Homo sapiens: one gene and its partners. The protein of the gene in region 4 purifies or fractionates together with the protein of the main gene of each other region. This does not show direct contact. Each region holds a gene or a part of one and is shown on either strand. Other genes may lie near its edges.

Region 1 (8,337 bases), on a different chromosome or scaffold from region 4:
CTGAGGCAGGAGAATCGCTAGAACCTGGGAGGTGGAGGTTGCAGTGAGCCAAGACCGCACCACTGCACTCCAGCCTGGGCAACAGAGTGAGACTCTATCTCAAAAAAAAAAAAAAAAAGTTCTCAAAAGTATTTTGAACTTCCTCACCTTTGTCCTATTTTGGAAGGAGGGGGTCTACATTGAAGAGATCATACAGAAATAAATTAATTGTTACAAAAGGAATGGAATGTCTATACTTCTTACCCTATTGAGTTACATTAACTGCATCTTCAACTTAATTTAAAGTGCTCCTCAACCTAAAATATCGTCATGTGTCTTTAAAAATGCATATTACTAAATCTATTTTTTTTTCAGTCTATCATCCACACTGCAGCAAGGTGATTCTGCCAAAACATATCTCCTTAAAAGCCAACTGGAGCTTCTCATCAGCATCAATGTGAAGCCAAAAATCCTTAGGAGGACAGAGGGAGTCCCTCACAACCTAGACTGGTCCCCTTCCCTCCAGCTGCCTCAACTGTCCACAGGACTCTCTTCCCACCTGCGGCCACACTGTGCAACCTGGAATTTCCCCACCTGGGCGGACTCATCACGTCATCACCAATTGGATGCATCTTCTGCTCTGTGCAGCTGGTGAAATCTTTCTCAACCCTTGAGATGCAGCCCAATCTTCTCCTAACATCTGGATTCCTCTCTGTCACTGCATTCCCTCCTGTCATCCTGCCTTTGTTTTCTTGCCCTCCTTTCTCTCCCGGGTGATAGGCATTAACTAAAATTAAATAAAAATTCAGATCATCCTTGCACTTGCTGCATTTCAAATGCTTGGCAGTCACATGTAGTTAGTGGCTACCCTCTTGGACAGCACAGATAGAGATTATTTCCATCACTGCAGAAAATTCTAGACTTTGAGCTTCTTGAGGACAGGGGCTTGATCATTCGACACTGCTTTACAGTGTCTAGCAGTGTCTACCCTGTGGCAGGGGCTCAGGAAATTTTTCCTGAACCGAACCTAACTGAACTGATGTGGGTTTGTCATCAGGGTGTACCTGCTGTTAAAGGAGGTTACGACCTCTGATGCTGGGGTGGCCAGAGGGGATGGGAGTGGGTCTGGCACTCTGAGGAAAGGGGGTGAAACCAGCTGAGAAGTCATCTTTTACCTGCTGGCATGGCCCCAGCCAGGGTTCTGTTGCTATGGGAGAATGGGTGAGTAGGGATGGATTACACCACCCTGGATCTAGAGGACAACCTGGCTTGAGGGGCATGGGGGACGCTGGAAGTCAGGGTAAGAAGCTTGGACTTCATTCTACTGGCATGGAGAGCCCCTGGAAACTACTGAGCAGTAGAGGGATAGGCTAAGCTTATAGGAGGAGCCAAAATTATTACTGTAGCTCCTTAGATCTTAGATCCTGTGACTTAGGAAAGGCAATAGGAGCCCCTGAGCATTCTGGGTCCTTTGTACATTTGGGAGAACAGAGGCCCGGAGTGGGAAATCGTCCTCCTGGGCAGCACAAACATGGCTGCTCCATTCCTATTCAGAAGCCTCGTTTCCTGATTAAGGCTCTGGCATCTGTGGTGTTTCATTGTTCATTATTCATGAATAGACTTGGCCCTGTTCAAAACTAAAGCTTCAATGCTGCAAATGAGGGCTGCAGAGAGGATGTTGGGGAACTCGTCTGTTTGGCTTCAAAACTGCCCCCTTTCCTCTGGAAAAATCCTCTCTAGAATACCGTGCCAAGGCCTGGTGAGTGAGAAATGAGTTTTCATGATGTATCAAAAGAAAAATGCTTCTTTTAAGAAAACGTCTTTATAAATGGCAGCAGATGGGGAAGAATCTAAAAGAAAGAGCAACGCTTGCAGGTTGAAAGCATTACCTCCAGATATGGAGACGTTAGGACTAAGGGAAGGTCAGAGATGGGCCCACGAGGCCAGGTTTCAATGGACTTACCATTTCCTTCTTCGTGCATCCACTGATGGACACACGTAGGCACACGCACCAACAGCCTCCCATGTGGACAGTCCAGGGTGCCCAGAACCCTTCCAGCAAGACTTTGATTTCTGTTTCGAAGGATTTCTTGAGGCCCCTCTGTAGAGCTGCTTGTCTTCTTCATAACCGGTGCCTGGGTCAGAGCAGGTGGGGTGAGCTGCACTCACAGCTGGGAGGTGAGTCTGTGATCTCATTGTGCAGTGGCCCTGCCAGGTTGCTCTTTCTAAAACCTTGGGTATTGCAAATTCTGCTTCTTAGGGACCGCTTGGTCCCCCAGTCCTCCCCCTGCTGACTCCCTTCCTGATGAAGCCACCAGCATGGCTCTCAGGGTAGTGCTGTCTTCCTTCTCTAGAACAGCCACGTGGCCCCAGGGCTGGCACTTACTGGTCACCGTGGTTACAGACGCCTCTTCTAGGCTGTGAACTGTCACAGGAGTGGGTCCACTTCGGCCGACACTTCCTCAGGGGTATTAAGTAGCTGGGGGTCCCCCTGAGTCTCCATCACCCTCTTACCCATTCTCCACCCCCTCCCCCACCACACATACACTCTACTCCCCCAGTGCTGAATAACTTGCCAAAGCACTGTGCTGGCACTGGGGCATGGTAAAGAAGACGGGGCCTCTGCCCTAGGGAGGAGGTGATGAGGGCAGGAATAGCAGCACAGAGGGTGAGAGGCAGAGACAATGGCACTGAGTGGGGGCACGAGGATGGAAGAGGAGCATGCTAGATGGGACGATGGGACCCAGCACTGACCAAATAGAAGCTTGTGGGTGGCACATCAGTCACTCCAGGGACATATGTGGTCACTGCCATTTTCCTAATGAAACTCCTCCAGTTATTAAACAAAGGCCCAGAGTCACAGACTTAAGGACCAGAAGTGGGATTTGAACCCAAGTCCCCCAGATGACAGGGCTCCCACGTGCTTCTCTAGGTCACATGAGCCCACGCTGGAGGGGAGGAGGGGTGTTTCAAGAAGAGGGGAGATGTGGGCAAAGAAAGGCACAGAGACCGTAAGCAGACAGGTGTGTTCCAGAAAATGCAAGTTATTTGGCACTGGGGGAGCAGAATGTATATGTGGTGGGGGAGGGGTGGAAAATGGGTGAGAGGGTGGTGGAGACTCAGTGGGATCCCCAGCTACTTAATTCCCCAACAGGGAAAGAGCCTAGAAACTCCCTCCACCTCCCGCAAAGCAGTGGGGAAGTTGCGGCCACACTGTTTTCGGTCCGCTCATTCCCTCTGCAGTCTGGCTGCTCAGGGGGATGGAGGAGGATGGGGCTTGCAGGCAGGCACAGCCGGTTTGGAAGGTGTCCTGGCTCCAGCACTCAACTTGTGGCATGACACTCAGGGGAGTCACCCTTTCTGGCCCTCAGTTTTCTCCTCTGTAAAATAAGGAAATTCGACAAAAATAAGTTATCACCAATTTATTCACCACCACGTGTCCTTTTAATTCCATCTGCCCCAGGACTGCAGTGGGGAGTCTTTCTTTGCCGATGGACTTCGAAAATCATCACCCCCCGCATTTTTTGTGGTTAACCACAGCTAGCCAGGAACTCAGGGCTTCTCATCAGCAGAGGCCTCTGCCTCTCCAGTATCCAGGGCCGAATGGATTTTGGGTCAAGGCCTCCCTCCCGCAGCCAGGAGGCCCTGGCTTTATGGAATATCGCTTGGAGTCCAGGGAGTCAGCATGGGGACCCCGACAGCTTTCCCATGCCCCAGGCTCCTGGGCCTTTCTGGGGGACCCCTCTGGACCTTGGGCATTAACAAGGTTCATATTTGGAAGGTGCTTTGAGGGGGCTTATAGGTATTTGGAGTTTACTTTTTAAACTATTTGTATTGGAAAAATAACGTGTGCACAAGGGAACAACCCAAATACAGAAGAATATTAAAATCCCCAAGCCCCCAGCCCCCTCCCATGCTACTCTATCCCAAAGTCAGCTCTGCCGGCTCACCCAACCCTGGGTGCCTCTGCCCAGGGTGGGGGTGGAGGTTTGAGGGTTCGGGATGAGGGCTGGACGAAGGGCCTCCTCTCAGGTCCTTGGACACGAGCTGTGCCCATCTGCTCAGTGTGGACCCAGGACTACTGCCCACAGGCCTGGTGCTGCCTGGGCACCCAGACCCACCTCCAGGGTCGCCCTCAGCCCTCCTGATGACTCTCGGACTCGCATCTGTCCCAACGGATGCACCAAAGATTCTCCAGTGGGAAATCAAATTTTTGATAACAAGTGTTTTGAAATAATCACGCACTTGGTGAAAAATCAAAAGAGGGGAAAACCCCTTTCCCATCTGAGACCGCTCCACCCTCGCCAGTTACGAGCTGCCGAGCCGCTTCCTAGGCTCTCTGCGAATACGGACACGCATGCCACCCACAACAACTTTTTAAAAGAATCAGACGTGTGAAGGATTCTATTCGAATTACTTCTGCTCTCTGCTTTTATCACTTCACTGTGGGTCTGGGCGCGGGCTTTCTGCCAGCTCCGCGGACGCTGCCTTCGTCCGGCCGCAGAGGCCCCGCGGTCAGGGTCCCGCGTGCGGGGTACCGGGGGCAGAACCAGCGCGTGACCGGGGTCCGCGGTGCCGCAACGCCCCGGGTCTGCGCAGAGGCCCCTGCAGTCCCTGCCCGGCCCAGTCCGAGCTTCCCGGGCGGGCCCCCAGTCCGGCGATTTGCAGGAACTTTCCCCGGCGCTCCCACGCGAAGCCGCCGCAGGGCCCCCTTGCAAAGTTCCATTAGTTTGAAGGACGCGAATCTCAGCGAGAGAACCTGCGGAAAGCGAATATGTGGGGCGCGCAGACGGGGAAACTGAGTCCCGCGAGAGGGCCGGCCTGTGCGCTGCCCCGCCCGCGCCCCGCCAGCACCGCCGTGCCCGGGCGCGCCCGCCCTGCCCCCTCCGCGGGCGGTCCCGGTCCAGCCGCCCGCCCTCCCTCCCGCCATCCGGCCAGCCCCCATCCCGGGCGCCGTGCCCGTCCCCAAGGCGGCTCGTCACCGCTGCGAGGCCAATGGGCTGGGCCGCGCGGCCGCGCGCACTCGCACCCGCTGCCCCCGAGGCCCTCCTGCACTCTCCCCGGCGCCGCTCTCCGGCCCTCGCCCTGTCCGCCGCCACCGCCGCCGCCGCCAGAGTCGCCATGCAGATCCCGCGCGCCGCTCTTCTCCCGCTGCTGCTGCTGCTGCTGGCGGCGCCCGCCTCGGCGCAGCTGTCCCGGGCCGGCCGCTCGGCGCCTTTGGCCGCCGGGTGCCCAGACCGCTGCGAGCCGGCGCGCTGCCCGCCGCAGCCGGAGCACTGCGAGGGCGGCCGGGCCCGGGACGCGTGCGGCTGCTGCGAGGTGTGCGGCGCGCCCGAGGGCGCCGCGTGCGGCCTGCAGGAGGGCCCGTGCGGCGAGGGGCTGCAGTGCGTGGTGCCCTTCGGGGTGCCAGCCTCGGCCACGGTGCGGCGGCGCGCGCAGGCCGGCCTCTGTGTGTGCGCCAGCAGCGAGCCGGTGTGCGGCAGCGACGCCAACACCTACGCCAACCTGTGCCAGCTGCGCGCCGCCAGCCGCCGCTCCGAGAGGCTGCACCGGCCGCCGGTCATCGTCCTGCAGCGCGGAGCCTGCGGCCAAGGTACTCCGCCGCGCTCCTGGGCAGCTCCCCACTCTCTCCATCCCAGCTCGGACCTGCTTCTGCGGGACTGGTGGGCAGGTTGAGGGGCAGCGAAGCGTTGTGGGGTGGCCAGGGCAACTCTCGGGGACAGGCAGGTGGGCCCCGGGGTGGCGGATTTCCGCGGGCTGCCTCGGAACCGAGCTTCGCGCCCAGCCCGGGGCCGGTTCTGCGCCCAGACGATGCCAGTACGCCCGGCCTGCACTCTGGGGCTCGAGACGCCGGGCGACCGGCCATGGAGTGCCCTGAGGGCAACCACACAGCGCGGGGACCCCAGGACAAATAAGAGGAATGGGGGCATAAAGGAAGGAGAGAAGTTCAGGACTGGGAATTGGCGCCTCGCAGAGCGGCTTCAGGACCACAAGAAGTCATTTCGGTTGCTTTTTCTTCTATTTACGTCCTCCGTCCCCTTTAAAATTCACTGCTTTGATCACGGGACCGCTCAGTGAAAACTGTATGTAACTCTTTTGGAAAGGAACAGTGTTTGCCGGCCCGCCCCGGAGTTTCTCCAAAAAGTCTACCCCGAGCAGGGAACGGTTTGGCACCGCTCTCGTTTCGGCGGCGTTGCTGCCTGTCTTGCTTTCCTCGTTTTGAGCCAGCCCTACAAAAATGAAAGTGGCTCCTTTTGAATAAGCTGAATCGGGCTTTGGATCACGAAATCTGCAGAGGCGGAGAAGGGACCGGGTTAGTGATGAGGAAGAAGTCTACCCCTCTGTTCCTACAGCCGCACACAGGACCTGTTCTGGCAGGGGAGACGGTGGTGATGGGGGAAGGAGTGGAATGGAGCAATGTCTAACTCTCTCGCGGGACCTTCCGGAGAGATGCTCCTCATCTTCAGGCAGAGGCCATGTGGAAAAATAATATCGAGTTCAGCAGCGGCCAGCCCCGCGTTGTAGGAACCAGACAGCGGGGCTTGGCAGTGCGCTTGGGCGCAGCCGTGCCGCTGCTGCCGGACCCCAGTGCTGCCTCCTCAACACGGGCAGTGCCAGGAGAGGGGCATAGGGGAGCACAGTGCAGAGGGACTGGTCTAGAGTTTACTTTATAGGAATATGGTTCGGTGTGACCAACTAGGGCTTAGCATAGTTTGGCTTACGTGGACGGGAAGATGCCAGAGCCGAACTGGGTGAAATTCGAGATTGCGTATTTCACCAACACAGGAGCACAGCCCTCGGGAAACTCAGCCTAGTCAGGCAGTAGAGAGTTGTCCCGGAGAGAAGTGATCCTGCAGACTCGAGAAGGGGCATGATGATAGCACACGTCTGTTGAGCACCCAGTCTGTGTGCCGGGTGTGTTACCTCTGTGACCTCATTTGGTCAAACGAGGAGGCAGTTGCTCCTCTCTCTCTCTTTTTTTTTCTTAAGAGACAGGGTCTCCCTCTGTCGCCCATGCTGGAGTGTAGTGGTGTGATCATGGCTCACTGCAGCCTCCGACCCCTGGGCTCAATGATTCTCCTGCTTCAGCCTCCCAAGTGGCTGGGACTACAGGCGGATGCCACCACACCCAGCTTCTCATTCCCGTTTTACAGATAGCGGAGCTAAGGTTGAAAAACTTGCCCAAGGTCATTCAGCTGGAATTTAAACCCAGACAGCCTCATTCAGAGGAGTCAGCCCAGCACTTAACTCCAAGGGTGTGGGAGAGGGGTCAGGTGCTGTAAATTTCCTGGTGGGCTGGACGTGCATCCCCCTCAGAGCTGGGAACAGCATACACAAAGCCTAAGACTTGTTTGGAGGTGAATAGATCAGTGTGGCTGGGGAACGTTTTGGGAGGGCAGCAGGAGTGAGCCAGGCTGGTGGCCCAGAGTCCCAGGGCTGAAGAGGCTGGCTGTGCCCCGTGCCCTGTGCGCAGATGTTCTTGAACTGGAGCAACTCAAAGCCTAGTGTAGTGTAGGGCTGACCTAGCAGTGGAGTGCGGAATGCATCCAGGGTGGAGAGTTTAGACTACTGCAATAATCTGGGTGTGAGGCGACAACATTGAAAAAGCATGTTTTTGTCCAAAACAAGCCAGCTGTTACTGGTCTCGCTGTTTGTGGTCTCATCGCACGGGGTCCTGAGTTGCTGGCACCATGCGAGCCGCCTAATTTATTGCTAGTGAGGCAAGTTGCTTAACAAGTTTTGGAGTTGGCTGAGTCCCTGTGTGGAGGAAAACAGGTCCCCCATTGGCCATCGGGCTCACAGCGGGCCCCCGGTGTACCAGTGAGGGGACAGCCACAGAGGGATAAGCATGGTGGCTTTGAAAGGAGGGAGAGACAGAGTGGGTACAATGCTTTTCTTATCCCTCCCTCCTTCTTTTGCAAATATTTATTGAGCTCTGTAGGGTGTCTGACACCGTTTGCATGTTTGTCTGTCTGGCACATCGGAGGTACTTGGTACGAGTGGATTAGTGAATGAATAAATGAATGAATGAAGACAAACGGGAGGTGCTTGCGATACACAGCCATTCTGTTTTTCCTTAGTGGAAGGCACTGCTTTGCTGCGCCCCCTCTCTGGATCTCACACTCCACCCTTGACTTTTCGGAGGTGTTTCCGAGGACAGGCGCCTGGGAGCCAGCAGACTTCATTCAGTCCAAGCCAGGCTCCAGGACTCAACAGCTGGTGCCCACGGGCAGGTCACTTGACGTCACTGTTAAATGAGGTGAATTGGCTGCCTGCTCTGGCTGGAAGATTGGCGGGAGAGTCACTTTAGCTGCCATGGACATGAGCCTTTTCTAGGGGTGCCACTTGACTAGAGGC
Region 2 (7,345 bases), on a different chromosome or scaffold from region 4:
GCTGGGTCTCTGACTAATTACACGATGGGGAGGGTGGGTCAGAGCCTTGGCTGGTGGGGGGTGCTCAGGCTCTGGGGCCCCGGGGAGGCAGCTGCCCTAGCTTCCCTCTTTCTGGTCGAGGTTCCTCCACCTTCTTCCTTTCCGTGGTTTCACATCCCTTGACACAGGGCCTGCTTCTTCCCATACCCCTGGATTGTAAGGACCCCTGCCTTTCTCTGCCTACCAGGGAAGGACCCTGCACTGTTCTGGGCTCCCCCAGCCACAGGTGTGGCCTCAAGCCAGGCCCTGACACAGTGGCCCTCCTGGCTCAGAAGCCTTCTCTCTGAAGACCAAGCGTGTGAAGGGATTGGCTGGGCCCCTCCCGTCTGGCCCTGAACACTGGCACCCCGCACCCCCCCAGTGGATCCACCCTGCCCTGTGAGATTCATGAACCTGTGACAGTGACTGGCCCCAGGCCCAGTGGTGCCGGGGATGGTGGGACAGGCTGCCCCTGGTGGTACTGCAGGTTTGCCCCACCCCCGGGGATGTCTGTCTGGGGAGGAGCCTGGGGCTGGCCTGGCTGTGGAGCTGGGGGTTCTGTTTCGCACAGTCCCGCCTCTGCAGCCCAGATCCTGGAGCCCTTCACACCCAGAGGCCAGCCCACACCGTGGCCCGCTATGGTTGGTGGCCTTCCCTGGGGGTAGCCCCTAAGGCCACACCTGAGCTGCCTCATGTCCCAGGCTAGGTGAGGGAGGAGACTGCCCTGGGCTGGGATCAGGGCGCCTGGGGGCAGGTCCAGCTCTCTTCCTCAGCCCCCTAAGGTCTCCTGGCTTCTGAAAGCCAATAGTTCCTCATTCCAGTGCCAGCTGAGTCCCGGCCCAGGCCTGGGGCAGGAGAGGGAGGTGCTGCCCCAGTTCAGCCACCAGCTCTGCCAGCAGGGTCCCAGCAGCAGCAGCATCAGAGGCAGGGACTGGGCTCCTGGGGGTAGGGCCCCGGCCCCTCTGGCACAGCTGGTCAGCAGCTTCCATGGGGGGCCCTGTGTGGAGACACAGTGTCCAGCACCGATTTCTGGGCCTGATGCTGCCCCAGCTGAGTCCCGCAGCAAGCGCAAGAGAGAGAAGTGCTTGGTGTCCACCTCTGAGAAGGCCTCCTGTGTGAACACGGCCCCCTGAGGGGCCAGGCAAGGGCGTCTGCTCCTGTGGCTGGGACGGTTCCTGCCCACGAGCCTTGTGTAGGGCTGCGGCTCTCTTCCCAGGTGACCTTCTGTTGTGGTCTGGGGCCCCCGAGCCAGCATGCCACCTGCTCAGAGACAGATTGGGCCCCCTGTCAGATTGGCGTCTGGGGGCACTGTCTGCTCCTTCCAGGCAGCTTTGAGGACTTCTCAGAGGAGGAACCCCCCTGCCCTGCTGGTCCAAAGTGGGGTGCTGAAGGCCGAGGCAGTTTCCAGGGGGCTATGCCTCAGGCTGCGTGGGTGGCTGTGGTAGGAGCGTGCTCTGTGATTGTCACTGCATTTGCCTGGGGTCCATGCTCTGTCCTCAGCTGGGGTCTGGCTTTGAACCTAGGTGAGTTCTGGGGCTCTGAGGACAGGCCAGAAGCAGGAGTGTGGGGGGGTCTCTCCTGGGGGAAGCAAGGGAGGCCTGGGCCTGTGTGACTCAGACGTGGTAGGGTGGCATGGGAGCCACAGCTTGGGGGGATGGCGGGGGGCTTGAGGGTAATCCAAGTATTTCAGGGACCCAGCCATGGAGAGTGGGGTTTGAGGACCAGCAGGAGGTGAGGACTCTGTGGATCCCAGCCCTGTCAGGTGTGTTTTCAGAGCTGGGGCCTGCTTTGGAGGAGATGGAGGGCACAGAACACTGCTGAGCCCAGGCCCTGTGCCCAGCCTTGCTCCAGCCTTACCGGCTTGACACCAGGGCCTCCCTCCCACCAGCGAGGGGGAGAAGCTATTTTAAGTGGAGCCAGCAGTTGACAGGGGCAAGGGGCAGGTGGTGGGAGGGAGGTGCTCCAGCATGGCCCCCCCCACTCCCTCTCAGCCTCAGAGATTGGCCAGGGGAGCTGAGGGGCTTGGCCTCCCCACTCCTATGTTGGCACCGAGCCTGATCTGGTGACCACCCTGAGGGACTTCAGGAGAAAAGGATGTTAGGGAGGAGGGCGTGAAGGTGGGGCGCCCCAGGCAGGCCGCCCAGGCCCAGCAAAGCTCGCTGGAGGGTCCCCCAGTTCCACATCTAGACCTGGGGCCCAGTGGCTCTCGACCAGGCCCTGTGGGGTTTGAAGTCCTCAGCTCCACCATGAGCAGAGCAAGCCTCCGCGTGGAGCAAGGGGCTGGACCTGGCCTCCAGGGGCACCCACCTCCCCACACAGCTCCAGCCACGGGCATCACCTCCCACTCACTGTCCTGCCCCCACTCTGAGATGGGCATTTCCTCACTGGGAAATCCCTGTCCCTCTGGCCTCCCAAAGCCCTGAGTGTTTGCCCCTGTGGGGCCCAGCCCACACCCTGGGCTGCCTCACCCTTGGCCTGGACCCAGGTCCTGCCCAACACCCTGTGCCTCACCAGCCCCCAGCTCATCCTGGGCAGACGCAGCCCCTCTCCCCTGCTGAGACGGCCCTGCCCCCACCCCACTTCCCCATGCCACACATGGCCCCTCCCTCGGGGCTCCAGGCAGCGCTGGGTTCTGAGAGCCCCACTGCCCCTCTTAGCCCAAGTGCCCCGGCCTGAGGCTTCTCTCCCAGGCTCTTTGTACTGGGGACGAGTTCTGGGTGTTGGGGTGAGACCCTGTTGGCAGGGCTTTTCCGGCAGCACCCAGCCATGTGTGTCTGCACATGTGTGGTCATGTGTGCAAGTGGTGTCTGGCACACAGGCTTGGCGCGGTGCCCCAAGCTAATTGTGGGGTTCAGCGGTGATGGGCGAGGCGGGGCTGGGGTGACCGCTGAGGCGCTGACAGGCTGACGGGGAGATTACAGGCCTTGCTTACTGCTCACTGGCTGGGGCCTCACCCGTCCACCCCCCAACGCCCACCCCGGGGGTGAGAAGGGGGCTGTGGGCGGGGGCTGGTCTTGAGCCAGCTGCATCCAGGCAGGACCTGGTCTCTGAGCAGCCGGCTGCTGCGGGGTTGAGCTGGAAAGGGGGAGATGCGTGGGGGCCACTCAGAGGAGAGCCTGCAGGTGGGGCTGGGCACCGGCGGGCCGGGAGGCCTCCTTTCAGGAGAGACTCCAAGTGACTGAGCCCCAGAATCCCACGAGAGTCCCTCCGTGGCCGCCTGCTGTCTGACCGCATGTCCTGTCCTGATGAGTTGGTGGTTCCTGCTGTAGCCATCGGCCTCGTGTGCCCCGAGCGCCTGGCGGTGCCCACCCCTCCCACAGGAGGTCCTCAGGAAGCACGGAGACATCGGTAGGTTCATTGCGCTGCCCAGCTTTCTGACCCGAAGGACCACGGTGTAGCAAGAGGGGGCTGCAGCTGTGCCCAGGTTGGACAGGATGGGGTCTGGGACCCCGAAAGGGGTGGTTGAGGAGAGAGGTGGTTCTGCAGGCCTGGTGCGTGTGGGGACAGGGCGCCGTAGCCAACTGGATCCCACCTTCTGTCTGAGGGCTGGGGAGGACCATCCTCCAGATGCGCCAGTGGGCCGTGGCCAGAGAGGAGGCTGAGGAGGGCCTCACAACTGTGTGTAGGATGGGAGGGCAGCCTGGGGCCCCAGTCTAGGGACGCACCATATACAGGGGCTGCACTTGGTGCAGAGGCGGAGAGGGGGCTGGGGCAGGCCCCTTGGGCATGGCCAGGTGAGCTCAGGGGGTGCCTGAGGGCCAGGGCTAGATACAGAGGCCCTGGGTACCAGGTGGCCTGGGTGTGTCAGGAGGTGTGGACCAGTGGGGGCTGTGACTAACTCGGCTGGAGCAAGTGACAGGAGGAGCTGGGGCTTCATGGGGCACCCCCAGGATCCTGGGCTGGTGACCCCATCACTGCCACCAGCCAGGGTGACTTTTCCTGCTGGGACCCAGAGCCCAGACTGCAGGGGAGGCTGGCCCTAAGTAGGAACCCCACCCTGAAACCAGGCTGGCGGGGAAGGGGTGCGACGGCCTCCACCTGGGAGGGGTCCTCAGCCGAGAGTCCAGCGGGGACCGCTGTAGACGCTGAAGCGAGGCTCAGGCCTCCACATCAGTCTGTCCCTGGAGCCCCGCCCCGCCCCGCCCCGCCCCAGCTCCTAGGTCGGGTTGTGCCGGGAGCGTTCGGCCTTTGCCTCGGGTGAGTCTGGCCTTGACCCTGGGTCCGGAGTCCTGCGGGAGGCTGCTCCGGGCAGGGTCGTGCATGATTGGCAGCTGGGCCGGGAGGGGCCGAGCCCTGAGACCGACCGGGGGCACGGGCGGAGCCACCATCGGCGGGGCGGAGCTGCTCCCCGCGCCCCTTCCACGGCTCGGAGGACTTAGGTAATGGCCGGCTGTGCGATCCGATGTGCCCGACGCCAGGTGAGCGCCCCGCGGGGACGACGTCTCCTGCGCTCGTGTGACTGTCGCCGCCGCCGTCATTGTTACTCGGGTCAGACTCCCACCCGCCCGCGCGTCCTGGGCCCCCGGCCTGGTGAGGTTTGTCCCAGAGGCGGCCACGTGCTCCCTCCAGGTGCGCGAGGCCGAGGGGCGGACGGGGCGCCGGAGTCCCCGGGAGGGCGCGGGCGGTGGCCGTGGAGCTTGGGCTCGCGGGGGGCAGTGGGCGGCGCCGAGGAGGCGCGGGCCTAGTCCCTGCGCTTCCTGGCCCCGGGCGCGCTTTGCCCCTGGCTCCCGGGCAACCGTTCTGCGCCCTCCGGGGAGTCTGGCGGTGCCGGCGCCGGGGGAGGGGCTGTGCCACCTGGGTCGGCCTGCGAGGAATAGTCCAGGGCGCTCCACACAGGCCGGGTGCCCGCCTTTGGCTCTGGCCGGGTACCGGGCTCGCAGACCCACCCAGGAGACACCGCCCCCCGCCTCCCGGGCTGAACTCTGACCCGGGTCACCGGTGGGTGGGGCTGGGTGGCGGGGCCGCCGGTCTCGCCCTCGCCGGGTCTCCCGCGCGCTCTCCACCCAGTCCCTCCCCGCGCCTACCCACGGGCGCGGCGCTGCGGGAAGGGGCGGCCGGGGTCCTTGCCGACCCCCCAGCCCCACGCCCCGCGGCACCCCCCTCGCGCTTGTTTTGAAAACAGCGGAGGCTGGGATTCGCCGGCGCGTCTGTTTTGTTTCCTCTGATGTGTTTAGCGCTCTGGGATAATTGCAGATTTGCGTGTGTCGCTAGCTTTGGCCCGGCCCCCTGGCTGCTGGCTGCGGGGCCTCCGGGGCCTCCGTGGCTTTTCTGTGACGCCTGTCGCCCCGTTCCGGGACAGCCACTCTCAGACGCGCCTTGGCCTGTGCTTGGGGCAGCCTATCGCTCACTTGGTCCGAGGCTGCTTCCCCCGCCCCCGCACCGGGCCCCCCCCCCACCCCACGCAGGGCCTGTGTCCACCCCAATCCTTTGAGCCCTGGAGGGCCGCACAGCCCTAGGACCTCTGCCTTCTCCACCGCCCATGTCCTAGGTGCTCATGCCACCCCCTCCTGCCCTCCCAGGCCTAGGCCCGAGCTCTCCTCGTTCTTCATGGCGGCTGCTGCCTGGATCCCCATCTTGGCCCCTGCCGGGCCGCTGCCCATGCACCTCCTCTGGCCCCTGCCCTCTCTGGTTCCCGTGCCAGAGCCCACAGCCTGGCCTGGCCAAGAGCAGCCCCCAAGCTGGGCCTGCCCTCCCACTGGGCCTGACTGCTTTGTGCTGGTTTGATTTTAGCATTAAGAATGGTCAGTCTGGCTGGGTGTGGTGGCTCACGCCTGTAATTCCAGCACTTTGGGAGGCCAAGGCGGGTGGATTGCCTGAGCTCAGGAGTTCGAAACCGGTCTGGGCAACACGGTGAAGCCCCATCTCTACTGAAATACAGAAAATTAGCTGGGCATAGTGGCGTGCACCTGTAGTCCCAGCTACTGGAGAGGCTGAGGCAGGATAATTGCTTCAACCTGGGAGGCAGGGGTTGCAGTGAGCCAAGATCATGCCCCTACACTCCAGCCTGGGTGACAGAGTGAGACCTGTCTCAGAAAAAAGAAAAGAATGGCCCAGTCTGTTTGCTTGAAAATACTGAAAGGCAGAGAACTCCCAATTTTAGTCCCCACTGGAACCACCCCGCAGTGCAGCCAAGACTTGGGGCGGTCTCAGAACCAAGGCTGGCAGGAGTTTGGGGGCCTGGCAGCCCCCACTCTTGGCCTCATCTGGAGTAGGGCTCTGTCCTTCCCCCTTACATGCCTCTTGTTTACCTTTACCCAGTGGGAGGGGCGGGGGCCAGACTCAGCCCGTGCAAGGGGCCTGGGGGCTGCTGGTCAGAAAAAAAAAACAAAAGGGACCTCAGGAGAGGGCCACAGGTGCCCAGCCAGCAAGCAGCTCCTGCTGCCTCCCAGGCTGTCTAGGTTGTAGAGGGGAGGCCCAGCATCCCTGTGCTGCCCTTGGCCTACATCGGAGTTCTGGTTGGGGGAGGAGACCCTTCTGCTCTGTTGGCCTGGGGGTGACCTGCGGGGACAGGTCTTCTGGGCTCGCGCCCCTGCATGTCACCACCCCTTCCCGGCTCACTGAGTTTGGACCGGCAGGTGCCCAGTGACCAGATCCAGTGTTTGGACTTGTTGGGGCAGGGCGGCGGGGCAGCCGGGGCCTGTCGGGGAAGACCATAGACCACAGAGCAAGGCCAGTCCCTCAGGGGCTGGGTTAGGGAGGGTGTCTCGGGGTCTAAAGGATGGGCAGGGGCTTTCCAGGGAGCACAGTGAACATGGACGTGGGAATGTCGTGAGGCAGCGTTCTCTGAGTGGGCACAGCTGTAAAGATTTCCACACCCACTCAACCTCAAGGCAGCCCTCTGAGGTGGGCGCCATAATGACCCCCAGGTTACATATGGGGAAACTGAGGCACAGAGCAGCTTTCTGAATGGCCCACATGAGCCAGCTAGAACGTGACAGAGCTGGGGTGTGAACTCACTGGTCTGGCTCTGGACTTCAGGCCTCGAGGTCCCTGGGTGCAGCAGCGTCAGGTGTGACCACAGCCACCTAAGGAAGAAACTCCTTTTTCTGGGGTAGCTAAGCGGGAATCTTGTGAGCAGGAGATGGAGCCTGGCTCAGTGTTGAGGGCAAGATGGATGGAGGTGGGAGAAGCCAGAGGCCGGGCAGAGGAGGTAGACTTGGGCCAGGAAGGGCCCCAGACTGAGGGTGGAGGGATCATGGTGTTATTCTCTGGGAGGGGAAATCCATGGCCGTTCTCCACGGTGAGGGCCAGGGAAGAGGACGGCAGAAAGCCTCCTCCAGGAGAGTGGAGTATGGGTCTTGCCTCTGGCTTCCTGAGTGGATCGATC
Region 3 (7,705 bases), on a different chromosome or scaffold from region 4:
GTCTCCCCAGCTGTCTATTAGATCCCTGTGGACCACAGTGTGGAGAGCAGAGTTGGGAGGACTGCGCTGGCAACTAAGGGTCCCCATGTCCTCCAGGCAGGAGGTGACAGAAGCAGGGGAAGTGAGACAAGGATGGGTTAGGAATATTTGGCAGTGGTGGTGCCAGTTCCAAAGTGGGCTCAGGCAGGAATCCAGATGCCCCCCCAACCAGCTTTGAACCCAGTGACCAGGGATCTGAGGGCCATTCCCCAGAGCTGGGGGTGCCTGGATCCTCCCCATCTCCTTCCTCACCCAGTAGCAGTGGGGCTGCCTCAAGGGGAAGGAGATCCCAAGTATACTTTTGCAGAAAGCTCTGACTCGTACAAATGCAGAACAGTCCCCAGAGCTGCCCCAGGGGCAGGAGCATGGGAAAGCACCAAAAGAAGCTCCTCTCCAGACCCCCCTGAAATGGAACCATGTTCCTAGGAATCTCCTGCACTACTCTACAAACTCCCCAGCCCTCTGAGCTGCCGAAGGCAAACAGAAGCTAAACCAACATGGGAAACCCAGAGGGAAGAGCCCAGCAGCCTGCTGAGTCACTTCCCCTCTATTTGATGTGGGGTCAGGAGCCCCAAAGTCACAGACCCCGGCTCCAACCCCAGCTCCTCCAAGGTTGCTCACCTCCAACTTCTCTGTCTGCATTTGGGGTGCTGCAGTCCCTCCTCAGAGGGCAGTGTCAGGACCCAGTGTGGTCACACCAGGAGCTCAGAGCTAAACAGAGGGCAGCTGCTGCCGGGGCCAGACAAGAGCCGCAGGGGCTCTAGAGCCTGCCTCACACAGCCCATCCATAGCAAGAGGCACTTGCCTCTGTCCCCACAAACTGCCTGTGCAGTCTTCTCCCCACCTTCCTGTGGCGGCACAGCCTTTTCCTTATTGACTCTTGGGAGTTCTTTATATATTCAGGATACACATCCTTTGACAATTAGATGTGTTATAAGCCATCTCTTTCTAGATCCTGACTTGTCTCATTATTTCATTATTTATAACTTTTAATGAGCAAAAGTAACTAATTTTAATGTAGTCAAATTGACTCATATTTTCCTTTCTTTATTTTTTTAGTATCTTGTTTATGAAATCCTCCCCTAGCCCAGGGACAGGAAGCGAATCTGCTCTCTGGTCTCCTAAAAACCTTAGAATTTTCTGTGTGGCGCTGAGACCTAGGCCACCTGGAATCCACAGTTGCTCATGATGGGAGAAGGAATTCCAGGGCATAATGAGAGGGTCACATGAGCAGATTCTCACTGTGATGGCTTTTGCTGCTGCTGTCTGGGGACTGGACAGAAAGGTGTTACCAAGTACAGCAGGCAGAGCAGAGAGGAGGTGCTCCTTCCTGAGGAGCCCAGAGTGGGGATGGAGGGAAGTGGAAAGTTCTGGAATATATTTTTGGGAAGAATCCACCAGGCTGAGGGATGCAGGGGACATGGGGAGCATGGAGGTTCCCAGTAGGGCAACCTGGGGGATGTGGCATGTTTCGCAGAGATGGGGAAAATGAGGGAGGCACCTGGTTAACCAGGAGCTTGGTCCTGGACACGTAGACTCCAGCGGCCCTGGACCTTCCCAAGACGCAGCTGGAGACAGGGGGCTCTACCACAGAGGAGAGGCCTAGGCTCTCCTGGGCACCGTGAGTACAGAGCAGGAAGCTCCTTGAGGAGTGTCTGCCTTGGGGCAAAAGGGCGGGAACAGGCAGACAGCAGGGACAGCCCCTGGTGCTGGTGACAGGTGGCGCAGACAAGAGCTGGTGAACATTCCCCGAGGTCAGCCATGGTGTCCACACTCACTGTGTCCCTCACCACAGCTCTGCAAGCTCTCACGTCCATTTCACAGATGAGGAAATCGAGGCTCGGAGAGCAGTCAGGACTTGCTCTGCCTTCACCAGCCATGAGGATGGATTTGCGCCCACACGTGTGCCTCGGTAGTCCGTGAGGAAAGAAAGCGCTCCAGTCTTGTTTGCCAGGGAAGGGAGGGGAAGTACAGCCCAGTGGCTGGGTCAAGACCACAGACTGGAGAAGCCAGACTCCTGGGATTAGCCTCCCAGCCCGGCCTCCTATCCACTGGGGAACTTGAGCACGTCTCCAGCCTCAGCCCACCCATCTGTAGAAGGTAGCAGAGCCAGCACTGTATTAGTGCTTGGGAAATAAAATAATAAATATAACTTTTGAGGAAGATGTTCTGCCTCATTCAGGGACATGTAAGTTAAAACCACAATGAGGCTGGGCATGGTGGCTCACACCTGTAATCCCAGCACTTTGGGAGGCCGAGGCGGGCAGATCACTTGAGGTCAGGAGTTTGAGACCGGCCTTGCCAACATGGCAAAACAAAAATTAGCTGGGCATGGTGGCACACGCCTGTAATGCCAGCTACTCGGGAAGCTGAGGTGGGAGGATCACTGGAACCCAGGAGGTGGAGGTTGCAGTGAGCTGAGATCGAGCCACTGCACTCCAGCCTGGGCGACACAGTAAGACTCAATGAGGCTGGGTGCCGTGTCTCATGCCTTTAATCACAACACTTTGAGAGGCTGTGGTGGGAGCATCACTTGAACCCAGGAGTTTGAGACCAGCTTGGGTAACATAGAGACCTCATCTCTTGAAAAAAAAAAATTAGCCAGGCATGGTGGTGCCCATCTGTAGTCCCAGCTACTCAGGAGGCTGAGGCAGGAGGATGGTTTGAGCCTAGGAGCTTGAGGTTACAGTGAGCTCTGATTGCACCACAACATCCCAGCTTGGGTGACAGAGCGAGACCCTGTCTGTCTCTAAAAAAAAAAAGCAGACAAGCAAAACCACCTAGTTGAAAAACCAGTTCATGCCACTAGATTTGCAAAACTAAAGAGTGCCAAATATTGGTGAGGATGTGGGACAGCCAGACCCTTCCACACTCCTGCTAAGCTGCTGGGAGTGTAAACTGGGGCTGTCACTTGGGAAGACGGTTTTGCTGTATCTCCTGAAGCTAGACAAATCCTACCCCGTGACCCTGCAGACCGTCCCTGGATCTAAAGGTGCCCACCGAGAGGCACACACAGGATGCTCATCACAGCTTTGCTCATCATGGCTCCAGATAGGCGACAATCCCATGTCCATCGGCAGGAGAATGGGCGAGCAGGAGCCCAACAAAACAGGCTGCGAAGACGATGCCTGCGAGCAGCTGCCCTGTGCCCTCACCACACAGAGCAGACAGAGCAAACAGCACAGGCTGAGTGACCCCGTTTCTGTAATGCCCAGAACAAGCCACCCAAAACAGCGTCCCATTCTGGGGTGCAAATATAAGAGGTCACACCCAAAGAAAAGCACTTAAAGATGAACACAAAAATGAGGGTTGTGGCTGCTCCTGGGGAGGGAGGAGCGGGGTGAGACGCGGAGGGACACCTGGGCCCGGTATGAGTCCATTCCCTTTCCCTGTTAACCATGTGAACTGTAGAGAGTTCCTCTTCTGTAGGGGTGACGTGATTCACACAGCAAAAACCGCACCCCTCAGGCTACAGATGGGGGCCAAGTCCCCAGCCGGGACTCAGCCCTCCCACGACGGGGTTTTCCTGGCCCATCTGCTCTGTTATCGATGCTCCTGTTGCCGGCTTCCCCTTCCTTGGCCTGGTTGCGTCCACCGGGAGGCCCTCCCGGATGCCTCCTGCCTGGGAGTGGCGGTTGTGAGTACAGTAACTGAGTGCTGGGTGTCTGCCCCTCAGCCTTGCCATGCAGGCTGGGGGTATTGCCTGGACAGCTCTGGCCCGTCACCCTGGATTCTGCAGCCCCACACCTCACACCGTGTAGATCCGCTGCCCCACGCTACAGCCGGAGTTCGCGTCTCGCCACGCCTCTGCCGCGGGACTTTCCTCCCTGGGCTGCGTCCCCAGCCGGGAATGCGCCACCAGCCTGGGGCCTGCAGGGGGCGCCCGGGCTCCCCGCGCAGGTGCCCGCCCATCTGACAGAGCGGAACGCGCGAGGCCGAGAGCTGGGAACACCCGGCCCCGCAAGGTCTGGGAACTGCGATTGCCTCCTTCAGCCTCAGTTTCCCCCCCCGTGAAAGGAGGCCATGCTCCTAGCCTGGGCACACTGAGCCAGGCCCTGTTCCTGGGGTCGCGGGCTAGCCCGCTCGAGAGCGGGGGGCTCCCGGAACTGCCCGCGCGGCCCCGGCGCCCAGAGAGTTGAGGCGGGCAGCCGTATCGCCCTTTGAAGACGCGCGGTGGGCCCCTGCAGGCGCGCGGCGCGGGGCAGAGCGCCCTCTGGAGGCCGCCGCCGGCCCCGCCCCCGCCCCGCCCCCGGGCTCTGGGCGGCGCATGCGCGCGGCGCGGGGCTCCGCGGGCGGCGAGAGCGAGGCCGGTCCGCAGCCGCGCGGCGCTCGGCGCCCCATTCATGCTGGGCATCGGCTGCGCGGCCACGCAGCGGAGCCCGGGCGCGGCGGCGGCCTCGGCCTGGGCGGCCTACGCGGCTTCGGCGGCCCCGCGGCGGGGCGGACGGCGGCGGCGGCGCGGGCGGCTGGGCGCGGCGATGGCCGGCGGCGGGGCGCGCCCCGGGGCGGCGGGTGAGTCGGGGCGCAACTTTCCCCGCGGCGCGGGACGGTGGGCGGGGGCCGGGCCGGGCTGGGGTCCGGGGCCGGGCGGCCCGTGGGTGGGCGCGGGGCGGCCTCCGGCGGCGGCCCTCTCGTGAGGCGGCAGGCAGGGGGTGTGCGCGGGGACTGCGGCGCGCGTGGGGACTGCGGCGCGCGTGTCCGCGGCCCGCGTGTCCCTGCGGCTCCGGCCCAGGCGTCCGCGTGTGTCCGGGCGCGGTCGCGGCGCCGACGCGGAGAGACCGCACCCCCGTGCGGCGGGGCTGGGACCGCGGCCCGGGATCCAGCGCCGCGGCCTCCCCCGCCCCCCGGCCGGGCCCGCCGAGCCCCGCGGCAGCTCCGGGGTGGCGGGGGGCGGGCGCTGCCCCTCCACGGAGGCTGGGGAGAAAGTTTGCGGCGGCCCCGCGGGGAGGCCCCTGCGGTGTCCAGGCCCGTCCCGGCCGCTGGACCTCGGCTCAGACCTCTGGCCGCGGGCGAGGACGGGGTGGCCAGGCCCGGATAGGGATCGGAGCCTCCCAGCAGGGCCGCGGGGGCCGGAGGAGGTCGTGCAGGCTAAGCCCCCGGCCGGCCCTGGGGCGCGGGGTGGAAGTTGGAGCGGCTTCCCGACCACAGCTGCCACCGCTCCCACTGGCCCGGAGTGCGGGGAGGTGGGCTCTGGGTGCCGCCCAGGAGGCCGCCCCGCTCGGGCCTCCTTGGCCTCCCCCTCTCGGGGCCTCTCCAGGGTCAGCCGCTTCTCCCGGAGGCTTCCGATTGCTTCCTGGATAGTCCCGGGCCTGATGTGCGGCGAAGCTGGAGGCAGCGGGCCGATCCCGGGCTGCCAGGGGAAGGGGGAGTGGGGACTCCAGGGAGGCCCCTCGGTCGGCGTGAGGTCCCAGGTGCAGCCCTGGAAAGGAGGGGAGGGGCTCCGAGGGGCGGCCCCGGGCGGCGATCTGCCCCAGGCTCCTGTGTGGGGTTCTGGGGCCACGCCCCTTGAAAGAAAGGGGTGTGTGTGCCGGGGAGGGGACGTGGTCGAGCCTCTGTCCCCTCAGCGCGGCTCCTGTGGCTCAGGCTGCTCCGTGCTGCCCCATCTCCTTTCACACGTAGCCGGTTTGGGGGTCGGTGCAGGGATGGGGCGCAGTTTCTGCTCCCCGGGCCCTTGAGGAGCTTGCCTCAGGTCCCCTCGATTTCCTGCGGCTTGGGGTGTGCGGCAGAGGCCAGGTGCTGCACCAGGGGCACCAAGATGCTGCCCGGCCCTTGAGGAGCACCCAGCCCCCTGCCAGAGGCAGGCATGTGAACCAGTGATTCGCTGCAGGGCCAGGCTTCCATTCCTGGGGGGTGCCAGTGGGGCCCAGGAAGGGCGTTTTGGGCAGAGGACAGCATGGGCGGAGGCCTGGGTTTGTGGCCTCAGTGTGTGCTCTGGGGGTGGGGGACACATGAGGTGCCTGTGGACAAAGCAGACAGCCCTTTGCTGGACTCCTGGCCCCCCAAGGTCGTTGCCTGCCTGTTTTGAGCCCCCAGGAAAGCCCCCGTGCACAGAGCAGCTTAGAGCAGCTGGCCGGGAGGAGCGGGTGCCCCAGGGGAAGGCCTGCAAAGGTAGGCACTTTTTCTCAGGAGCAGGACTCCAAGGCCTTCAGAGCCGGATCCCCTAGGACTGGTCGGGAGCAGAACCACTGGGACCACCTCCCATGACCCCCGTTGTGGGGGAGGCGGAGTGCCAGGAGCAGCTGTCTTCCCCCCCGGCTGCTGTTGTGAGCCACTGGGCAGGATGGCAGCCCCACACCCCAACCTGCCTGAGCCATAGCAGGATCTGGCGCAGGAGGACTTGGGGGGATTGGACTCTTCCTTGTGGGGAGGGCTTTGGGGGCCTTTGTTTCTCAGGGTGAGAAGGAGCTTTGGTGTCACTCAGGCCAGGAAAGGGAAGGGGACACTGTTGGCTTGGCGTTCCACCAGGCGGCGATCCCCTCCTGTCCAGGAGAGGAGCCCCTGGGCTGGGGCTCCTGCACGCAGACCGCGGGGTCTCTCTCCGCCTCTCTCTCCCTGGCTAGCCCCATCGGCATCCCAAGGCCAGTCTAGCCTCCCCTGCCCTGGCTCTGGCTCTGCCTCAGCCTAGAACAGCTCTGGCCATGCCGGAGAGCCACAGCCGTTCCTACTGCCCTCTGCACAGCCAGTGTTTCCCACCCCAGGCCTTTGCTCCTCCTGTTCTGCCCCCCACCCCCACCACGAATGCCCACCCTCCTGCACCAGCTCCCAGGCTACCTGGTCCTCTCTTGAGGCCTTTCCCCGGCCACAGTGGCCAGCTCTGCTCCTCGGTAGAGTGCAGCATCTGCCCATGCTCCCCTCCTAGCCCCGGCATGGGCCCCTGGCACCCTGGCACCTGGGCCCAGCTTTGGAATGAATGCATTTTTTCCTAGGCAGACCCAAGCCTATGAGAGTTGAGCCCTGCAGGCTGGCTGGCTGGTCCAGTCTCTGGAAGCTCGAAATTTGGGCCCTGCCCTGCTGGGACTAGTTGGGTGACCTTGAGTCTGAGCCCCAAGTCTTATACCCCTAAGGTGGAAGAAGTGGCCCAAGCATTGTCACTGGCCTTTATTAGATGCTGGGCATGAGGGACCCAGCCCTAGGCTCGGGGCTCCCCCTTTCTTGGCCGGCAACCCTGTGACCCCAGGCAAGTCCCTTCCCAGCAGACTTTGTTGGGGCAGTGGGGTGAGGGTGGAGTTTGGGGCGGTGGGCCCAAGACCAGGCTGGAGTTTGGATGGTGGCTTCTTAGCCTGGTCCCTCCTGTTGAATACAAAAAGTAGGGCCCATAATTGCATTAAGACGTGTATAATTATCCCAGAGGAGGGGAGAGCCCAGCCCCTGGTAATTGCAGGCCTGCTTTGAACTGATAAACGGTGAGTGATTCATGTTTTCTTTGGAGTTCACATGTGCTCAGCTCCCAGCCCCGGCCCCACTGCCACTGTGAGGAGCCTGTTTTCTGGCTCCCGGGTCTTCCTTGAGCTCTGAGGCGGGGGCGGGAGTGGGGACTCCTCCCCTGCTGTTCTTGGGGCGCTGTCCGGCAAAGGCAGCTGGCAGCCTGCTAGGAGCACCCTGCAGTTCCTGCTCTGGGATTCCAGCCAAAGCTCTTTGCTTCTGAGAGCCTCGGTTTCCCCACCTG
Region 4 (6,546 bases):
TTCCAATTAACACTTATATCCTGTCAGGAATGGTGGCTCAAGCATGTAATCCTAGCACTTTGGGGGGCTGAGGAGAGCAGATCACTTAAGCTCAGGGGTTCGAGACCAACCTGGGCAATATGGTGAAACCCTGTCTCTACAAAAAAATACAAACCATTAGTAGGGTGTGGTGGCACATGCCTGTAGTCCCAGCTACTCAAGAGGCTGAGGTGGGAGGATCATTTGAGCACAGGAGGTCAAGGCTGCAGTGAGCCGAGATTGCACCGCTGTACTCCAGCTTGGGTGGCTAAGTTAGACACTGTCTCAAACAACAACAATAAAAAACCCAATTATATTCATTTTTGTTATTTTGTTATTGCTCTATGATGCTCAAATTGTGCATCATTGGAATGCAAAGACCAGTTAACTTAATGTAGATCAGAATTCTCAATACAAAGGAACCATACAAACCACCATATAACAAAGCAAAAGAAAAAAAAGGAAAAAGAAAAGAAAATTAAAAAGGTCAAACACACTAAGTTTAATGCTTGAACTTTATTTTGGAGAGAGAAATTTAGAAAGACACAAGGTACACAGAGTAAAATGTTTTTCTTTTTTCAGGACCTTGAACTGAATCTTGCACTGCTTTGGTTTCTATCTAGGAAGCTCAGCGACAGCAGAGTCTGTAGAGGCGGCCACTGATTTCACACACCCCGGAGAGGGACTCACGGGTAGCACAACGGCCGGTTCGGCAATAGCAGGTGGCTCTTGCCTGAGAACCTGTGGAAAGAAGAGAGGGTCAGGCACAGCGAGGGAGGTGGGAAAAAGGACAAGCACAGCCAGACTAACTGAGATAGTCTAAATAAGAGACACTGTATCAGTCATGTTAGGATGGAGAAAATTCATGTCTTTGTCGTAAGTGACAAGAAATCTTACTAGCTATGTGTTAGTCATGCAAGATCATAGTTTTTTTCCCCATGTGAGTCTATCCAGGATGTATTTATTACCTGCTCCCTGGTCCAACAATATACCTCTCAACCTCAGGGTTACCTACTCTTCATTCTGCTTCATCCACACGCCTAATCTTGACCTCCATGTGTGATTTCCAGGTCCTAACAAGGCTCCCTAAAGCACCTGAATCAGTTTCTGAAATGCCGCATTGTGCATGCTAATGTCATGGACCAAATACTTTGGTGCTCAAGGAGTCTTTGAAGACTTTCCAAATTCAAATTCTTCATTCTCTGTCTCTCCTTTTTTTTTTTTTTTTTTTTTTTTTAACATTTTACATATTTACTTGTTTTAATTGACAAACAATAATTGTGTATATGTATGAGACACAATATGATGTTTTGATCTAAGGATGTATTGTAGAAAGATTTAATCAAGCCTATTAGCCTACATCAAAACACACCTATAGGTTCCTCTCTAGGTTCTAAAAGCTTTTCCAATGGACAAAGTAAAACACTCTCTATATAACTAAGTCTGCCCATTTAGATCTACAAAGAACTAGTCAGTGTAGCTCTTTCTATCTTAAAAGTAGCAAATTTCACAGAAATATCTTGGAACTGAAAGTCTTAGAAAAAAGAAAATCTTTTAGATTTATTTGGTTCTCACTGATTAATTTATAGATGAGAAAATCAAGGTCCAGGAAGATTAAGTAAAGTCACTCAAGTGAGGTAGACCTTTCCACACTTGACTCCAGATCCTTTCTCCAATCCTTTTTTTCTAGATTTTGCAGATGTGCAAGATTGATGTCTCCTACCTGAGGTTCTAAGAGCAGAGAGTCCATTTCCTGCAAAGGAGATAGCAAGGTCCTGGTTGTCTTCCCCAGACTGCTTCTGGGTTGTAGCCTCATCAGCTCTTTCCTGGAGTGACTCAGCCTGGGCCTGCAGGGCCACCAGGAGAATGGCAGCAAGGATGGCGATGGTCCTCATGGCTGGGGTCACCTGCAGGAGGGAGAGCAGGAGTGGATATGTGGGGAGTGAGGAGTCAGCCTGGATTTATAGCTCTGCTGGGAGAAGACCTGAGACAGAAGCTGCAGTGAGAGGAGGTGGGCATGTGATTGGGAGGGGAAGGACTGCCTTTGTTCTCAAGATCCCTTTGATGCTCCTCTTTCTCCCAGCTTTCATCAAAGCGTGAGTCTGTATGCTTAATGCCTCTTCTTGATCCAAGGTGTTAATGATGATAAGGGTATTACTATCCTGTTCTGTTTCCCATCTGCTTGAGTATTTACTTTTATATATTCAAAAAAGAAAAACAACAGCGCTTTCATTCAAGAAGTTTGGGGATCAAATGCCTCTTGTTTTCTGAAGATGGTCCCTGGTACTCTCTGGATGACTCTCTGGGGGCAGACCTGGGACTCAGTGGAGTAGAGAGTTAATTCATTGCAGGATTCAGGGATATTACTAACCTCATGTAGGAGGCTTTTGAGATCTCGAGGTGAGTAGTCTCCCGCTGGTGCCAGTATGGAGAGGTCAATGACCTTATCAGGCTATAGGGGAAATGAGTTCAGTAAAATAGTAGGCCAAGTTTATCAGATTAAAATAAAAATTCGGATTTAGTTCAAGGAGTTGGTGTGATCTGAATGCATCACATAAAATGTGTAGCGGGTACTTCTCTCCACTTTGGGGAATATCAAAGTAATTTAGGTGCGTACAGCCCCTTTCTGAGATTTTTTTTTTAGTTTTAGAAAATTGTAAATCATGCACAAGGAACAACATTCAAAAGGTAGAAGTCATGAGCTCTCATTTCTACCCCCAGGCCTTCAGTTCTGACCCAGCAAACCATCACTATTAACAGTTACACATAGTATTCTGCACTTCGCTTTTTTCACCTGTAACATTGGCACTTTGTATATCAAAATACATGGAATGCTATTATAATTTTAATAGCCTTATACTATCCCAGGGTTTGTATATGCCATCACTTATTTTTTGTACTGATAAAATATTATAAAATTATTACAATTTGGTTATTTTTAAACTTTTGCAGTAATAAGTAAAGTTACAGTGATTATCTTGTATATATGTTCTCTTACCTATATGGATAAACTTATAGAAATAGAATTGCTGTGTCAAAGAATGCATCTTAAGCCAGCATGGTGGTACATGCCTATATTTCTAGCTATTTGAGAGGCTGAGGTGGGAGGATCACTGGAGACCAGGAGTTCGATACCAGCCTAAAAACATAGTGAGACCCCTTTCTCTTAAAAAAAAAAAAAGAGACTATATCTTACACATTTTTAAGATATTACTACATATTTCCATAATATCACCATATTTGATCCAAATCCTTTGGGGCTCAGTGGGCCCTTGGAGAGTCTCTATATTTGAATTCCTCATTTAATTTTTTTCAAATTTATTTATTTATTCATTGAAAAATAATTTTCTGTATATTTGTAGGGTATGATGTGACGTTTGGATTGATATCCACATGGGAGAAACACATAAGCTAATTAAGATAGCCATCACCTCACCAACTTAATTTTTTAAGGAGAATTACAAATTGATTCCTTTAGCAGTTTGAAAGATACAATACATCACTATTAACTGTGGTCACCGTGCAGTGCCATAGATCACTAAGACTCTCCAGCATAACTGAAACTTTGTACTCTTGGCTCAACATCTTCTCTTTTCCTATCTCACCCACCTGCAGCTTCTGATGACCACCTTTGTACTCTAGTTCCATAAAACTGACATTTTAACATTCCATGTGTAAGTGATATCATATAGTATTTGTCTTCCTGTGTCTGGTTTATTTCGTTTAGCACATTGTCCTTTGGTTCCATCCATGTTGTCATGAATGAAGAATTTCCTTCTTTTTTTTTTTTTTTTTTTTTTTTGAGACGGAGTCTTGCTGTCGCCCAGGCTGGAGTGCAGTGGTGCGATCCCGGCTCACTGCAACCTCCGCCTCCCAGGTTCACGCCTTTCTCCTGCCTCAGCCTCCTGAGTAGCTGGGAGTACAGTCGCCCGCCACCATGCTCGGCTAATTTTTTTGTATTTTTAGTAGAGACGGTGTTTTACTGTGTTAGCGAGGATGATCTCGATTTCCTGACCTCGTGATCCGCCCGCCTGGGCCACCCAAAGTGCTGGGATTACAGGAGTGAGCCACCGCGCCCTGCCAATTTCCTTCTTTTTTAAGGCTATATGGTATACCATCTTGCATGTATACCATATTTTCTTTATTCATTCATCCACTGATGAACATTTAGGCTAATTCCATATCTTGCTTATTTTGAATAATGCTGAAATGGACATGGGAGTGCAGATTCTTCTTTGATACAGTGATTTCAATTTCTTGGGAGATATACCCAGAAGTGGGATTGCTGGGTCATATGGTAATTCTATGTTCAGTGCTTTGAGGAACCGCCATACTATTTTCCAAAATGGCTGCACTAATTTACATTTCCACCAATGGCCTACAAGGGTCCCCTTTTTTTTATATCCTCACCAACACGTATTATTTGTCTACTTGTTAAAAGCCATTCTAACAGATGATTACCTCTTTATGATTTTAATTTGCATTTCCCTGATAATTAGTGATGTCGAGTGTGTTTTTCATATATCTGTGGGCCAGGTTTATTGCCCTTTTTTAAATTGAGATGTTTGTTTTCGTCTTATTGAGTGTTTGAATTCCTTATATCTTTGGGATATTAGCCCCTTATCAGATATATGGTTTGCAAACACTTTCTCCTAGTCCCTGGATCATCTTTTTGTTTCCTTTCTGTGCAGAAGTTTTTTAGTTGATGTAACCTCCTTGGTCTATTTTTGATTTTGTTGTCTTTGCTTTTGGAGTCCTGTTGTAGAAATAATTGCCCAGAAAAATGTCATAAAGATTTCCCTCCATGTTTTCTTCTAGTAGATTTACAATTTCGGGTCTTTTATGTAAGTCTTTAATCCATTTTGAGTTGAGTTTTGTGTATAGTGTGGGATAAGTGTCCAATTTCATTCTTCTGCTTGTGGATATCTAGTTTTCCTTACACCTTTTAGTGAAAAGACTGTCCTTTCCCCATTGTGTGTTCTTGGCATCTTTGTTGAAGATCAAGTAATCATAAAGCCCTGGGTATAGTTTTGGGCTTTCTACTCCTTTCCTTTGGTTATTGTGTCTGCTTTTACACCAGACCATGCTGTTTTGCTTCCAATAACTTTATGATACATTTTAAAATGAGAGAGCATGATGCCGCTATCTTTGTTATTTTTGCTCAAGATTGCTTTGGCTATTCGGGGTCATTTCTGATTTCATGCCAATTTTAGTATTTTTTTAATTCCTGTGAAAAATTGCATTGGAATTTTGATGGGGATCTACAGATCACTTTGGGTAGTGTAGACATTTTAATAATATTAATTCTTCCAATCCATGAACTCAAGATATCTTTCCATTCATTTGTGTCTTCTTCAGTTTTATTCATCAATATTTATAGTTTTCAGTGTACAGATCTTTCACTTTTTTGGTTAAAATTACTTCTAAGAATTTTATTTTTGAGTGCTATTATAAATGAGATTGTGTGGGCTTCTAAACCTTTGTGCCAGTCCAAACTCCTGTCTTTATTCTTAGTGACTCCTACAAAATTAGAAAGTGTCAAGTCATGCTATTGCCTTGAGAGAGTGGGAGAGAAGCCAGACCTTTAGAATACAGTGGAGAGGTTGGGGTGTTTGATATGTGTTTCAGTTTTTTCTTTCTTTGCAGAGAAACTGATAGAGTTTATCTCCCACTTATTCTGCCTTATGAAAATGAGAGGATCTGAATTAAATCTGTAATATCTATAATATTTATTTGAATTCGTGAATTAACAGGGAGCCTGGGAGGGACTAATTTCCTGCATCAGTGATTCCAGGTTTCATGGCCCTTGTTTTGCCCTGGTGGCCATTTAGCACCAGGTTTTAAACCATCTGTATTTGTACTGCTTCTCTATTTCTCACTGGACATTGCTAAGTTTGTAGATAGCGTTCCACAATTGTTTCCTAGCCTCCGTCTCTCTGGCATTGTCTCTCTGAATCTCTAGCAATGACTGAAGAAACAATTTGGGACATTTTTGTTCCAGTTCTAACCTTTCTCCATGAATTCTCTCATGTGTTTGATCACCCAGAGTCCTTATTATTTGGAGAAATTGATATCTTCAGTCTCTCTTCATCCTTCTCTGACCCCAAAATTAATTGGGTGAGCAGAAAATCTGGAAAGATAAATGGGTGGTTTAAAAACCACTGTCCAGGCCCTGTGGTGTGAGAGGCAGAGCTGAGCACTGGCCAAGCCAGAAGATGCCCGGTGGCCCATCTTCCCAGGACCAGGCCCTCACCGGCAGCCCATTGCTCAGCCTTAGACACAACTCTGTTGCCAGTCAAGTTTCTCATTATCTCTGGCAGAAGTATTTCTAGAGAACTCCACTGGGCTGGGCGCAATGGCTCATGCATGTAATCCCAGCACTTTGGGAGGCCAAGGCGGGCAGATCATTTGAAGTTAGGAGGTCGAGACCAGCCTTGCCAACATGGTGAAACTCCATCTCTACTAAAAATACAAAAATTATCTGGATGTGGCAGCGGGTGCCTATAGTCCCAGCTACTCTGGAGGCTG

Evidence for each region.
Region 1: the proteins of DEFA5 (region 4) and HTRA1 purify together in Homo sapiens (co-immunoprecipitation; 3 studies listed by BioGRID and IntAct, with this or other methods). This does not show direct contact.
Region 2: the proteins of DEFA5 (region 4) and PLXNB2 purify together in Homo sapiens (co-immunoprecipitation; 3 studies listed by BioGRID and IntAct, with this or other methods). This does not show direct contact.
Region 3: the proteins of DEFA5 (region 4) and PLXNA1 purify together in Homo sapiens (co-immunoprecipitation; 3 studies listed by BioGRID and IntAct, with this or other methods). This does not show direct contact.

Annotation. Positions count from the first base shown.
Region 1 is NC_000010.11:122,456,553-122,464,889, forward strand, and holds the start of HTRA1 (serine protease HTRA1 precursor), read left to right. Parts: upstream 1-5,000; 5' UTR 5,001-5,100; coding exon 5,101-5,572; intron 5,573-8,337. Other genes in the region: ARMS2 (age-related maculopathy susceptibility protein 2), read left to right, coding at 355-381. UniProt on the Homo sapiens protein: Serine protease with a variety of targets, including extracellular matrix proteins such as fibronectin. HTRA1-generated fibronectin fragments further induce synovial cells to up-regulate MMP1 and MMP3 production.
Region 2 is NC_000022.11:50,297,368-50,304,712, reverse strand, and holds part of PLXNB2 (plexin-B2 isoform 3 precursor), read left to right. Parts: intron 1-891; exon of another isoform or gene 892-1,234; intron 1,235-3,043; exon of another isoform or gene 3,044-3,250; coding exon of another isoform or gene 3,251-3,366; intron 3,367-4,201; exon of another isoform or gene 4,202-4,215; intron 4,216-4,377; exon of another isoform or gene 4,378-4,587; intron 4,588-7,345.
Region 3 is NC_000003.12:126,978,737-126,986,441, forward strand, and holds the start of PLXNA1 (plexin-A1 precursor), read left to right. Parts: upstream 1-4,378; 5' UTR 4,379-4,551; intron 4,552-7,705. UniProt on the Homo sapiens protein: Coreceptor for SEMA3A, SEMA3C, SEMA3F and SEMA6D. Necessary for signaling by class 3 semaphorins and subsequent remodeling of the cytoskeleton. Plays a role in axon guidance, invasive growth and cell migration.
Region 4 is NC_000008.11:7,054,785-7,061,330, forward strand, and holds DEFA5 (defensin alpha 5 preproprotein), read right to left. Parts: upstream 1,956-6,546; 5' UTR 1,914-1,955; coding exon 1,742-1,913; intron 760-1,741; coding exon 647-759; 3' UTR 520-646; downstream 1-519. UniProt on the Homo sapiens protein: Host-defense peptide that maintains sterility in the urogenital system.